4 linked regions of the Homo sapiens genome follow. The protein of the gene in region 2 purifies or fractionates together with the protein of the main gene of each other region. This does not show direct contact. Each region holds a gene or a part of one and is shown on either strand. Other genes may lie near its edges.

What was found. Proteins that work in one complex are often made in the same cells at the same time.
Region 1: the proteins of KCNC3 (region 2) and P4HA1 purify together in Homo sapiens (affinity purification with mass spectrometry; one large-scale study listed by BioGRID and IntAct). This does not show direct contact.
Region 3: the proteins of KCNC3 (region 2) and NDFIP1 purify together in Homo sapiens (affinity purification with mass spectrometry; one large-scale study listed by BioGRID and IntAct). This does not show direct contact.
Region 4: the proteins of KCNC3 (region 2) and PCNX3 purify together in Homo sapiens (affinity purification with mass spectrometry; one large-scale study listed by BioGRID and IntAct). This does not show direct contact.

The regions. Positions count from the first base shown.
Region 1 is NC_000010.11:73,086,867-73,090,366, reverse strand, and holds part of P4HA1 (prolyl 4-hydroxylase subunit alpha-1 isoform 2 precursor), read left to right. Parts: intron 1-3,500. UniProt on the Homo sapiens protein: Catalyzes the post-translational formation of 4-hydroxyproline in -Xaa-Pro-Gly- sequences in collagens and other proteins.
Region 2 is NC_000019.10:50,322,878-50,326,377, forward strand, and holds part of KCNC3 (voltage-gated potassium channel KCNC3), read right to left. Parts: intron 1,206-3,500; coding exon 98-1,205; intron 1-97. UniProt on the Homo sapiens protein: Voltage-gated potassium channel that plays an important role in the rapid repolarization of fast-firing brain neurons.
Region 3 is NC_000005.10:142,125,779-142,129,278, reverse strand, and holds part of NDFIP1 (NEDD4 family-interacting protein 1), read right to left. Parts: intron 1-3,500. UniProt on the Homo sapiens protein: Activates HECT domain-containing E3 ubiquitin-protein ligases, including NEDD4 and ITCH, and consequently modulates the stability of their targets. As a result, controls many cellular processes.
Region 4 is NC_000011.10:65,629,276-65,632,775, forward strand, and holds part of PCNX3 (pecanex-like protein 3), read left to right. Parts: intron 1-81; coding exon 82-140; intron 141-244; coding exon 245-460; intron 461-1,075; coding exon 1,076-1,329; intron 1,330-3,500.

The sequences.
Region 1 (3,500 bases), on a different chromosome or scaffold from region 2:
AGCCCAGGAGTTCCAGACCAGCCTGGGCGACATAGAAAGACTTCATCTCTACACAAAATAAAATAACATTAGCTGGGTGTGATGGTGCCTGCCTGTAATCCTAGCTACTTGGGAGGCCGAGGCAGGAGGATTGCTTGAGCTGGGGAGGTTGAGTCTTCAATGAACTGTGATTGTGCTACTGTACTCCAGCCTGGTGACCGAAATGAGTCTCTGTCTCAAAAAAGAGTATACTTGGCCAGGCGCAGTGGCTCACACCTGTAATCCCAACACTCTGGGGGGCCGAGGCAGGAGGACTGCTTGAGCCCAGAAGTTCAAGACCAGCCTGCGCAACATGGTAAAACCCTGTCTCTACAAAAAAATTAAAAAGCCAGGTGTGGTGTTGTGTGCCTGCAGTCCCCGCTACTTGGGAGACTGAGGTGGGAGACTCACCCAAAGCCTGGAGATTAAGGCTGCGGTGAGCCAAGATCACGCTACTGCACTCTAGCCGGGGCATCGGCAGTATCCTTATGACTTTTTGTAATCCCTTCTTTTGCTCCTTACTACCCTCTCTGTATCCCTAGGAAACCATTGTTTCCTTTCTGTTGCTTAAGATTAGTTTTTATTTTCTAGAATTTTATAAAAATGGAATTGTATATACGCTTTTTTTTTTTTTTTTTAGCACGGGGAATCTCCTTACACTCAGCATAATTTGAGATTCATCCATGTTGTTATGTGTTCATAGTTTTTTATTGTTGAATAGTATTTTATTTTATGAATATACCATGATTTTTTTTAACCCATTTACCCTTTGATGGACATTTGGATTGTTTTCACTTTTTGACTATTATGAATAAAGCTGCTATGAGCATTCATGTACAAGTTGTTGGAGAGAGATATGCTTTCTTTTCTCTTATATTAATGCCTAGGAGTGCAATAGCTAGATGTGATAGGGAAATATTTTTTCCCAGTTGTTGGCTTGTCTTCATTCTTTAAACAGTGTGCTTCAAAGAGCAGTTTCTATTCACAGACAACATGTCTGTGACTCTTCAAAAAAGCTCTAGTGAATAGGTTAATTCAGCAGAGTTGTAGCTTAGAAGGTCAATATACAACAGTAAATTGTATTTCTATATACTAATAATGAACAATTAGAAACTAAAGTGAAAAATTCCCATCTCATTAGCACTAAAAACCATGAAATACTTAAGTATTAACTTTTCAAATGGTGTGTAATATTTGTATGTTGAAAATTATGAAACACTGATTATATCATGTTCATGGATTAGAAGACTCAGTATTAAGATACCTACTCTTCTCAAACTGATTTATAGATTCAGCACATTTCTAGTCCAAATCTCAGAGGATTTCTTATAGAAATTAATGAGCCGATTCTAAAATTAATATGGAAAACCAAAGGAACTAGAAAAGCTAAAACAATTTTGAAAAAGAATAACAAAGTTGGAAGATTCATACTACCTGATTTCAACTTAGTTTAAAGCTGCAATAACCAAGACTGTGGTATTGGAGAAAAGATAGACATACAGATCAATTGAACAAAATAGAGAATTTAGTCACACAAAAATTGTCAATTCATTTTGAAAAAGTTTAAGGGCAGTTCAACAGAGGATAGTCTGGAACAGTTGAATATTCATATGCAAAGAAAAAACAATCTTTGTTTTATTTGGGCACCAAGTATCCACTGTTGGACACTGGGCAGTCCCTTGCCCAGGAATTTATGTGAATATTGGGACAAGTGACATGAATCCACCAGTGGATATGAAATAAAGTTTAATCACACAGTAAACAGCAAAAGGACTCCTCAAGGTCAAGGACTTAGGTTTAGTCCAGGATGAAGCAAGAGTGAAACAGGGTGGGTGGCTTTGGTTTTTATTGACCAGAAGGTGGAACTTGTTTGATGGTCCCCATGTGTGGTATTTACATGGTTTCAACTTCACACCAGTACCAAGGGAGGGAATACTGGTCCCCAAGTGTGGTATTTATATGGTTTCAACTTTACACCAATACCAAGGGAGGGAGTACCTGGGCTTTCTTACAGACTTACCCAGATGTGGGACAAAAGGGAGAGAGGTGTGGGACCTGAAGGCAATCTGCACTCAAACATCAAAATGAAATCTTTTTATTAGAGCCTCAATCTGTACTTGACACTGTATGCAAAAATTAGTTCAAAATGGTTCGTAGGCCGGGTCTGGTCGCACACGTTTGTAATCCCAGCATTTTGGGAGGTTGAGGCAGGAGGATTGCTTGAGCCCAGGAGTTTGAGACTAGCCTTGGCAAGAGTGAGACCCGTTTCTATTTTAAAAAATGTTCATAGATTGTGAAGTAAAATGTACAGCTATAAAATATTTGAAAGAAAACATAGGACAAAAATATTTTTGACCATGGGTCAGGCAGAGATTTCTTGGACATGATGCCAAGAACATGATTCATAAATGAACAAACTGATAAATTAGACTTCATCAAAATTAAGAAATTCTGCTCTTCCAAACACACTGTTGAGAGAATAAAAAGACTTCACAGACTGGGAGAAAATATTCCCCATCACATATCTGACAAAAAATAGACTGTATAAGGAACTCAAAGCTGGGCATGGTGGCTCACGTCTGTAATCCCAGCACTTTGGGAGGCCAAGACTGGAGGATTGCTTGAAAATCCAGGAGTTTGAGACCAGCTTGGGCAACATAGCAAGACCCCATCTCTATTAAAAAAAGTAAACAACCTAATTAAAAAGAGCAAAAGATTTGAGTAGACACTATGCAGGAAGGTGTATGAACAGCAGATAAACACCCCAAAAGGTGTTAAACATAGGCCAGGCATGGTGGGTCATGCCTGTAATCCCAGCACTTTGGGAAGCTGAGGTGGGTGGACCATCTGAGGTCAGGAGTTCAAGACTAGCCCGGCCAACATAGCGAAACCGTCTCTACTAAAAATACAAAATTGGTCAGGTGTGGTGGCACGTGCCTGTAATCCCAGCTACCTAGGAGGCTGAGACACGAGAATCACTTGAACCCAGGAGGTGGAGGTTGCAGTGAGACAAGATTGTGCCACTGCATTCCAGCCTGGGCGACAGAGTGAGACTCTGTCTCAAAAAAAAAAAAAAAAAATAAAGGCATTAAACATCATTAGTAATTATGGAATTGCAAATTAAACCCATAATGAGATAGTACTATATGTCTATTGTGAAAATTAAGATATTAAGAGAAACTAAGGAAAAAACGGCAATACAAAATGCTGGTAAGAATGGGAGCAATGGAAACTTTCATCCTTTGCTGTTGGAAGGGCAAATAGTGTAGCTACTTTGGAGAAACGTTTGGCAGTTTTTTATGAAGGTAAATATATACTTGTCATATGACCCAACATTCCCGCTCCTAGGTATTTACCCAAGTGAAATGAGAACTTAGGTTGATTTCCTCTTTTTTTTTTTTTTTTTTTTTTTTTTGAGATGCACTCTCACTCTTTTACCCAGGCTGGAGTGCAGTGACACAATCTCGGCTCACTGCAACCTC
Region 2 (3,500 bases):
ACGCCAACCACCCCAGGTTCTCTGAACCCCGGCAGCTACCTCCCCAGTCCTCCCCGGGTCTCCACCTGTGCCCCCGATCCCTGACGCCCAGGCTCACCTGCCCGGTTGATCTCAATCACCTCCTCCTGAGCCAACGGGCAAGGCTCGCCGGGGGCTGGCAGAGGAGGCAGCCCCATGATCCCCAGCCCACCCGCTCCCCCCCTGAGCAGCCCGGGGTGCGTGTGGGGCCCCGCTGGGTAGGCCCCGGCCACAGTCACCCCCATGGAGGGTGGGGTGATGGGTGGCGGCGGGCTGATGCCCCCGCTGCCGTGGTGCGGGTGGGGCGGGGGTGGCGGGGGTGGGTCAGGCTTGCAGTAGTTGGGCGAGCCCGGTTGCGGGGGCCGGGGGATGTGTTTGTTCTTCTTCTTGGGCAGCTTCTGCTTGGCCATGGCCAGCGAATAGTACATGCCAAAGTTGTTGACAATGACGGGCACAGGCATGGCGATGGTCAGCACCCCCGCCAGGGCACACAGCGCCCCGACCAGCATCCCCGACCACGTCTTGGGGTACATGTCTCCATAGCCCAGGGTCGTCATGGTGACCACAGCCCACCAGAAGCCAATGGGGATGTTCTTGAAGTAGGTGTGGTTGGAGCCCAGGATGTCATCGGGGTCGGCGCCAATGCGCTCAGCGTAGTAAATCATGGTGGCGAAGATGAGCACCCCCAGGGCCAGGAAGATGATGAGCAGCAGGAACTCGTTGGTGCTGGCGCGGAGCGTGTGTCCCAGCACGCGCAGCCCCACGAAGTGCCGGGTCAGCTTGAAGATGCGCAGGATGCGGACGAAGCGGACCACCCGCAGGAAGCCCAGCACGTCTTTGGCGGCCTTGGAGCTGAGGCCCGAGAGGCCCACCTCGAGATAGAAGGGCAGGATGGCCACACAGTCGATGATGTTGAGGCTGCTTTTAAGAAACTCCACCTTGTCTGGGCAGAAGGTGATGCGCATGAGGAACTCGAAGGTGAACCAGACCACGCACACCCCCTCCACGTAGGTCAGGAAGGGCTCCGTCTCCACCTCCACGTTGGTGATGTTCTCCGGAGGTGCCCCGGGGATCGGGGAGGCCTGGGTCACCGTCTTGTTGCTAATATGGATGAAGCCCTCATGGGTTTCCAGGCAGAAGGTGGTGATGGAGATGAGGATGAAGAAGAGGGAGGCGAAGGCCACATACTGCAGGGCAGGGAGGGAGAGAGAGGGGGAGAGGTGACCTAGGCATCAGGTTGGCCATAACATCCAGAAGACCCTTCCAGTGCCCCCTTCCCCAGCCTCCTGGGCCCAAACTCTGGGCAAAATCCAGGTGTCTCAGCCCTGTGGCTCCATCACTTCCAGAATCCCATTCTCCCCTCTAAAGCTAGCAAAAAGGGAGAGAAAGGAACAGAGGCAGTTGGAGAAGAGCTGGCCCCAGCAGACGCAGCAGATGGGCAGCTTCTTTCCTTGGAAACATTTCTGGCCCCTTGCTGTTTCCTAGACCACCTCCCCCCACCCTCCTGTTCCCTGTGTCCTATTTCAGGGCCCCCCAGCAGGGTCCACGGGTTCTGCTGTGGGACGGGAGCCGCCAGGCCTAAGATCACACATCCTGTGTGTCTCGGAGGCTTTAGGGCTCAGCTTGGAGCTGGGCAGACGGGAAGGGAGAAGGCGGGCAGGGAGGCAGAATCGTGAGGTGGTTAAGAGTCGGCGAGCCTGGGCATGAATCTGGCTTTTAACCTGTCAAAACTGGGCAAGGAGACTGAGCTTTCTGAACCAGAAGTTTGTAGTGGGATTGTTGTGAGGATTAAATTAGATGAGCGTACGAAGGACTTGGCTCCAAACACAGTGCTTGGAGCAGTGCCTGGAACACAGTAAGAAGACCTGAGCTGTTGTTAGGGTATGCAGGCAGCAGTTAGTTGGGGGGCAAGGTCAAGGCCTCACCCAGAGAGGACAGGGCAGTGGTGGTGCCACAGAGGGGAGGTGGGGGTCCGGGCCCTTAAGGGAGGAGGGGTTGAAGGGTTAAGCCTGCAAAAATGGAAGAGGAGATAAAAGAGGAGAGTCAGGCAGGGTTTAGGGCCCTGAAGAGGAAGGAGAGTCACTGGCCTGGACATTGTGGGAAAAGGCAGAGCCAGGGCCAAAGAGAAGTTAGGGCATTTGCCAAAGGGGCAGAGAATGAGGGGTGAAGGGTCCTGAGCCATTTCAAGATGGGGGATAACCAGAGTCCTGCCACACAGTGATGTGGGTTTTGATGAAGGCCTAGAAGAGGAGGGAGTGGGGTCAGGGTCTTGGAGAAGGAAAGCAATGGGCCAGGCCCCTAGAGATGTCATGGGCTTTATCAGATATGCAGAGGGGTGGGAGGGGAGAGGAGTGCATTGGAGAGGGAAGGAAGACAGGTGTTATAGTAAAGAGAGGGTTTTAATCCTGCGGGTAGTGGAGGAGGGAGGGCATGGGGAGTTTTGCTATTAATCAGGGGCACAGAGCACGGGGAGGCCACTGCTGGACCACAGAGAGGACCTTGGACTTTGGGGTGGGCCAAGGGCCAGCACTGTCCCTCTGTGCACCCCCCTTCCTCCACAGGGGTTGGGCTCTGGGCTTGACTTCACTGAGGTGCAGAGCTGGGAAGTAGTGGGTGGAGAGTTTCGGGGCCACAGAGAGGACCCTGGACGTTGGGGTGGGCTGGGGGCCGGCGCAGGTCCTCTCTGAACTCCCCCCCCACCCCCACCTTCGCTTCTCTGCAGTGGTTTAAGAGGCCAGAGGCCTTCGCAGAGCGCATGCCTAGTTCCCCGCCCCCTCCGAGCCGGGCGCGCGGCGCTAGCTGCGGCACCGCAGTGGGGGCGGGCCAGCCGGGCCGGGGGGCGGGGCGCACGGCGGCCAGTACCGCGGACAGCTCCCCCGCCGCAGTGCGCAGCCGCAGCGGCTAGGGGCCGTCTTAACCCCTTCCGGGCCGGAGCCTATTCAACGCGCAGCCGCAGTGTTGCTGCTTTCCGGCGGGAGGCCAAGGGCCAAGAGTCTAATTAACTCCTTCCCTCCCAGGGCACAGGGAAAGGTGGGCACCCGCCGCAGTGCGCAGCTGCAGAGGCTGGACGGCGTCGGGCTGGTTTAACCCCTTACTCCAGAGTGTGTCAAAAGCAGAAGGGGTAGGAGGGCATGGAGTCTCTGTAAGAAGGAAAGGAGTGATTACGAGGAAGGGGGCGGGGGCAGGGGGCTGTAGGGTCGGACCCTCCACTTTGCTTTGGCCTCAGCTCCCAACTCTCTCAAGCCATATCACTGGGAGGCTGGAAAGGGCTCGGCACACCTTGGACACCCAAAACACATTGGCGGAGTAAATGAGTATCTCCCGTAGCTGTCCCGAACACCTAGCCTGACCATCACAGAAGAACTCTAACTTCATCCCGCTCCTCATCTCAGCACCCTTCAATGGGGTCACAGGAGAGAAGGGCGCCCCGGCCATGGGGGAAGGAGCCGCTCAGTGTCTTGAGGGGGCATCCAGGGCCATGT
Region 3 (3,500 bases), on a different chromosome or scaffold from region 2:
AAGCTCTTGGCAAGGTATTCTTAGCCTCCTCACACCTAACCACTCTTGTGCTGTGGGAAGGTCACCAAAAGAAGCAGAAGAGTCAGCAGCAAGAACAAAGGCAAATACAGACTTTTCGAATATGTTCCCTTAATATACTGTAGCCAGTAATGAACTTCATTTAAACCTAGCTTGGTTTATACTTAACCCGTTTTATATTTCCTGAGCTTGGTGTCAAAGTAATCACGTTACCCCTGCATAATTTAGGTCTCAGAAAGGAAGCATGACAATTCTAAGAAATACAGAAATCCAAAGAACAAAGAGGTTAAGAGGTCTTCTATGACAATATTTATAAGATAGGCTGCCTGTCTCCTGGAAACTTGGAAATGTTAAATTTGATCATCCCCCACCATAGTAAAAGATGACAGTGCAAATAAATTCCAGCCTTCTTAGAACCACCAATTTTCACTTTGGTAAGGAAAAAAACACTTCCAGGTGAAGAGTTTGCTCCACTAAAATTCACTACTTTAGAATAGTGTACTTTTTTCAATTGAAAAATAAAAACAATTTAAAACACCATTATGACTATGGTATAATCCCAAGACCTCACTGTACAGGCTTCTCACTCTGGCTTATTTCTATAATGCTGGTGATAAGATTAGGCTCCATCAAGAAAGCTGTTTAAAACAAAACACTGCAATGTAGGGGGATCGCGGGGAGAGGCAATCACCTTCAAAAAGAGTAAGCACTTAGTGCCTGCCATCTGCATGCATAATAACTTGCTGAACAATGGAATCCTTAAATATACATCTTTTTACACTTCAGGGGCAACAAGTCAGGCATTCACTAACAAGTGGAGGAACCATGTGCGCTAGAACTAGAGTGTGCTATAAAATTGATTACTTGGTTCCAAAATTTATTTTTAAGATTCCCCTTTTCCACCCCTGGGAACCCTTCTGTGCAGCCTCCCTGCCATGTCCCTGGAGCTCAGGGATCTTCGGGCTCTTTCCTGACACTTTCTGAAAGAATACGCGGCATTGTCACGTTTGGGTTAGAGTTGGAAAGATGCTCAGTCTCTTCCATCAACTGGGTCAGTGGAAGCCCGAGTCCAATTTAACTGTCACAGAATCTGGGTTGTAGGGGATACTCAGAGAGACAGATCTGAAAACTGGGACAGATCTGGGAACTTCTGCTCTCAGTGCACAGAGATGTTGGGCAAGGGTAGGGGGGATATCCTTTGAGTGACTGTGATAGATAATAAATAGCTGTTGGACACTGGATTTTTTTTCCTGTCATATAATTTCTGACCAATTTTACTAAACTTCAAATATGATTTATTTTTTTGAGACAGAATCTCACTCTGTCACCCAGGCTGGAGTGCAGTGGTACCATCTTGGCTCACTGCAACCTCTGCCTCCTGGGTTCAAGTGATTCTTCCGCCTCAGCCTCCCAAGTAGTTGGGATTACAGGCATGCACCACCATACCTGGCTAATTTTTGTATTTTTAGTAGAGATGGGGTTGTGCCATGTTGGCCAGGTTGGTACCAAACTCCTGACCTCAAGTGATCCGCCTGCCTCAGCCTCCCAAAGCGCTGGGATTATAGGCGTGAGCCACCATACCCGGCTGAAATATGATTTAAATGGCATTTTTTCCAAATACAGCTATACAATTACCTACACAGGCCATACAAAGTAGAGTTTAATACAGAACTACCTATAACTACCTATGCCTCCATCGCTAAGAAATAAATAATCCAATCACCTGAGAATTCAGATGACCTTTCACTTTCTCACACCCAGAGTGTGCCATTACTCTTTTCCTGATTACCTTTGCTCCCTTCTATGTGCTGAGCAGACTAGAATGGCTCCCCAGAAGAACCCTAAAACTCTTCCTACTTCAGATATGTCACAATCTGCCATGGTGCCTTTGGCCTTGATGACCTTCAATTTTAAGAAAACATTTATTTACAAATAGGTGCTACTAAGGTTTTGTTCTCAAGTCACACCTGTAATCCCAGCACTTTGGGAGGCTGAGGTGGGCGGATCACTTGAGGTCAGGAGTTTGAGACCAGCCTGGCCAACATGGTAAAATCTCGTCTCTACTAAAAATACAAAAATCAACCAGGTGTGGTGGCATGCACCTGTAGTCCCAACTACTCGGGAGGCTTAGGCACGAGAATCACTTGATCCGGGGAGGTGGAGGTTACAGTAAGCTGAGATCAAGCCACTGCACTTCAGCCTGGGCGACAAAGTGAGATTCTGTCTCAAAAATAAATAAATAAATAAAATAAAATAGAGCGTTTTTTTTTCCCTCCTTATCACCTTCCTCTGTATCTAGGTCCTATTGTTATTAAAAATAAATATGACATTTTTATGAATCTCCAACACAGAAATCATATATAGTTCTAATTCTAATAGAAACAAACTTGAATTTAACACGTTTAAGACATTATACCCTACAGATTTAAACTATTATTTGAGTTCCCAATCAGCAAGAAAGCTTCACCACCGCCCTCCTCACTAAGCAGTTCTAAAATGAGTTGTTTTTAAGCAATAGCAGAGCTGGGGCTAGGATTAGGGCTAAGCAAGGGGCAACATTTATAACTGTAGCAAATGGCAGGACCTAAAGGCACTTAAAAGTCATTCTTGGATTATCTATATTTACTAAGAATGAGAGAACAACAAAAAACCCTACACTAAACAAAACCCATAAATCCTTATATATGAGAAAAGGTATCAACATACACCTCAGAATTCATACAAACAAACAAACAAAGCACGTGAAAAATAATGCTGAAGTATCCAGTAAGTCCATAAAGTTGCAAGTATTTTCACTACTTAATTTTTTCTTGGTTTGGTCATATTTAAACAGCAAGAAAATTCTTGTAAGTTTCAAGTCCCTTCTTTAAGTTATTAAAAATAAATATCAGAAAATTCTGGGTCAATGCTTGAACTCTAGTTTTGAATGTTATTTACTACTTCTATCTTAGAGTTAATTGCTAAAACTTTTACCTTAAAATGCAATTTTTAAAGCTCTCATTACCAACCCACTACTTCTGCATAGTCCCTAAATCCTACCAAAACAAGGCAGTATAATTACAAAAAGTAAACAAGCACATTTCTTTTGGTAAACAGCTGAGTATGCTATTTTACTGCTGTTCAGAAATAATCATTAAGTTTGTGTGGCCTGTACATTTACTTTATATATTGTAAATATAAACTCTGTTATTCTAACATCACCAAATTATTTACATTCAAGAAAAATTCTCTATCTAATTGTTATTAATTAGGGGAAGATATTTTAAATAATTCTGACAAGATAAGAGAGACTAAACAATAAAAAGGCAACCCAATTATAAAATGGGCAAATGATTTGAACAGACATTTCTCCAAAGAAGATATACAAAAGGCCAGTAGACACAAAATGCTCAACATCATTAAGTCAGCAGGAAAACGCAAATCAAAACCAAGACTCAATACCACTTCATGCTTACTAGGATGGCTATAATAAAAAAGACAGA
Region 4 (3,500 bases), on a different chromosome or scaffold from region 2:
GTGGCACAGGGAGAGCATGAGCAGGGTGCACCCTCTCTTCACCTTCTTGGCCAACCGCCTTGTTGCACTCTCTCTGAACAGCACTAAACGTGTGGATCATTCCAACACCCGCCTGGTCACACAGCTGGACAGGAACCCTGGTGTGTACCCAGCCATCCAAGGGGCTTTAGGGCAGGGCCTCCCTGGGGAGGGAGCCTCGCTAACTTGTCACTTTGTCCATTTGCCCGTCTGTTCTGGGTCTTAGGCGCTGATGACAACAACCTCAACTCCATCTTCTATGAGCACTTGACACGTTCGCTGCAGCACACACTGTGTGGGGACCTGGTGCTGGGCCGCTGGGGCAACTATGGCCCTGGTGACTGCTTCGTCCTGGCCTCTGACTACCTCAACGCCCTGGTGCACCTCATCGAGGTTGGCAATGGCCTCGTCACCTTCCAGCTGCGTGGCCTTGAGTTCCGGGGTGAGCCGCAGGACCAGGCTCGGGTGGGCAGGCACAGCTCGGGCCTGATGTGGGAGCTGTGTTCAATAGCACGTGCGAAGGAGGTCCAGTCCAGCTCTGTCCAGGCTGGCGGGTGGCCTTGGGCAAGGCACTCCTCCTCCCTGGGCCTGCGTTTCCCAGTCTGAGCAATGAGGTGGCAGGGTCTCTTGGCCAAGCCCTGTGCCTGCCCCAACTTTAGGTCCCAGTGACTCTACAGGTCACTGCAGTGAGGGCCTGGGCCTGGAGGTCTGAGTTCTCACACCCAGCCTGCTCTGTGGTCTCAGGCTTGGCCCATGGGTTGGGCGCCATGAGTGAGCCAGCTCCTTCCTCTCAGGAAGACGTGTGTGTTGGATGCCCGAGAGTGCAGAGGGGCCAGACCGTGTCCCTGCTCCCTCCCGCCCTGCCCTTGGATGCTGGGAGTTGGGAGGAGAAAGGCAGGCGCTCTTTCGTGAATCTTGGCATCCAATAAGGTTGACTCCCCTGGCGTCCAAGGGGGTGAATGGCAGCAGGCCTCTGATGCCATGTTGGTCACTCTCCCAGGACAGGGCAGGTAGGGATTGTTCTAGCAGCCCCTGACTGCACACCCCTCCTCCACAGGCACTTACTGCCAGCAGCGCGAGGTGGAGGCTATCACCGAGGGTGTGGAGGAGGACGAGGGCTGTTGCTGCTGTGAACCTGGCCACCTGCCACGGGTCCTGTCCTTCAATGCTGCCTTTGGGCAGCGCTGGCTGGCTTGGGAGGTAACAGCCAGCAAGTACGTGCTGGAGGGCTATAGCATTAGTGACAATAATGCTGCCTCCATGCTGCAGGTTTTCGACCTCCGCAAGATCCTCATCACCTACTATGTCAAGGTACGGTGGGCAGGTGTGGCCGGGCAGCAGGGCCCTTGCGGGTGAGCGCTCGCTGACCAGAGGCCCCAGTACCCCCTTTCTGGGTTGTTGGGAGCCTGTTTTGTCCAAGGGAAGCTGAGGCCTCAGAGAGTTTAAGTGTCCCCTGAGGTGCCACTGCCAGACCTCAGGTTGCAGGGGCCTCTGTGCCCATATGGCTCTGATAGGTGCCCAGGCAAGGAAGGCTTGCTTTGGGCAGTGAGTATGGGGCAGGTGGGCAGTTGCAGAGGCCAGCCTTTGAAACCACCAGCCCCTGCCCCCAGCTCACCCAGCACAGAGCAGTGGTAGAGCTAACAGTTGTCACGTTAACGATCATCATGGGAGCAGCTGCTTGAGCAGTAACATTTACCACGGGTGGGCGCTATGCTGGGCATCTCTCCTGAGCTGGGTGGAGTCCCCCACCCTTTGAGAGGGGCCCTGCTATCTCACAGATGTGGAAGTTGGCTTGCAGAGGTTCCAGAATCTGAAGAAAATGGCCAAGCCAGGCCTTGAACCCAGGCTGGCCCTGAGCCACAGAGCTTTCCTGCCTTAGCCTGGGGGCTCTGAGCCAGGCCTGAGGATCTTGAGACCTCTTGGGGGTGGGAGGGGGTTGGTGAGGCAATGTGGGGTACATAAGGAGCCCTGGAATGGGGGTTCTGATCAGCCTGGAATGTTTCTTCCCTGTGTCCCTCAGCTTACCCCTTGAGAAGTGGGGGTTATTGCAGTTCTCTGAGATGGCAGAAATGTTGAGGCTTGGCCAAGCGTGGTGGCTCATGCCTGTAATCCCAGCACTTTGGGAGGCCAAGGCAGGTGGATCACTTGAGGTCAAGAGTTTGAGACTAGCCTGGCCAATGTGGCGAAACCCCATCTCTACTAAAAATACAAAATAATTAGCCGGGTGTGATGGCGGGCACCTGTAGTCCCAGCTACTTGGGACGCTGAGACAGGAGAATCACTTGAACCTGGGAGGCAGAGGTTGCAGCCAGCCGAGATCGTGCTACTGCACTCCAGCCTGGGCAACAGAGCAAGACTGTCTCAAAAAAAAAAAAGGAATTTTGAGGCTTGTGGTGCTCAGAATAAGCGTACTGGGAGTGGGGTGGCCTGCTGATCACAGTGCAGGCTCCCACGTGCCTTCTTAGGATCTACCCTGGTGCTCCCTATGTTGGGCTCGGTGGGTGGCCTACTGGGGCCCAGGTGAGCCTGCCACCTAGGTTCTCTCTGGAGTAGTTTCACGAGGCCCTGGCTGTCCTTCTCCAAAGGAAATCCTGTCCACACCACATATCAGAGGAGCTGTCATTTGTCATTCCTTCTGCCCTCCCAGCCACTCCTAGGCAAGGATTTGTGAGACCACCCCCCTTTCATCAAGAAGGAGGCTGTGTCTAGAGAGGGACATTCCCAGTCCCAGGTCACCGAGAGGTCATGGCCTGGTCCACCTTCCGGTCCCATCTTGAGAGAGGTGCCCTTGCCCAGGTTGCCCTGCTGTGCCTGCTAGGCTAGGGCCAGCAGGTTGAGATGCACCTGGCCAGGTCTCTTGTCCCATGGGGAAGCTGACTGGCCACATCTAAGGCTGCCTCAAAGGCTGGGCAGAATTTGAGTCTGGAGGAAGTGCTTGGAGGACCTGGGGTGGCTCCGCTGAGGATGTGGACTGAGGGTGAAGCTTGGAAGGACAAGTCAGGGCTGCCAGGGGTGGGGCGGGGGGAGGCGGGTGTGCTGGGGAGCCTGGTGCATCTGGGGAAGTGTCCCAGCTGCAGGGATAGGTCCTTTCCAGCCTTCGAGGTTGGCCAGTCGAGGCGGAGCCCCTCCCGTTAGCTTTGCCCTTCCCGTGGGAGTTACTGGGCTCTCAGACCTGCTTCTGCAGCTGGGAAGGGCTACAAGAGCAGGAAAAGGCACCGTGGCTTGAGGCTGCACGGAGTCTGGGCAGTGCTTCCCGGGAAGTACCTTGGGCAGAGCCCAGCTCGCAGTGAGCGCTCACAGGCGGAGCGGCTGCTGGTATTGCCCCCCGTCTTCATTTTCTTCCTAAGATGACCGTGAGTGTTGTGTCAGAGAAAAGGATGGCACTGGTGAAGGTTAACCAAGCACCTGATATGTGCCAGGCCAGCTCCTCTCCCGGTCCCTGAAGCTTTTCTTTTTTTTATTTTTTTTTGAAACAAGGTCTC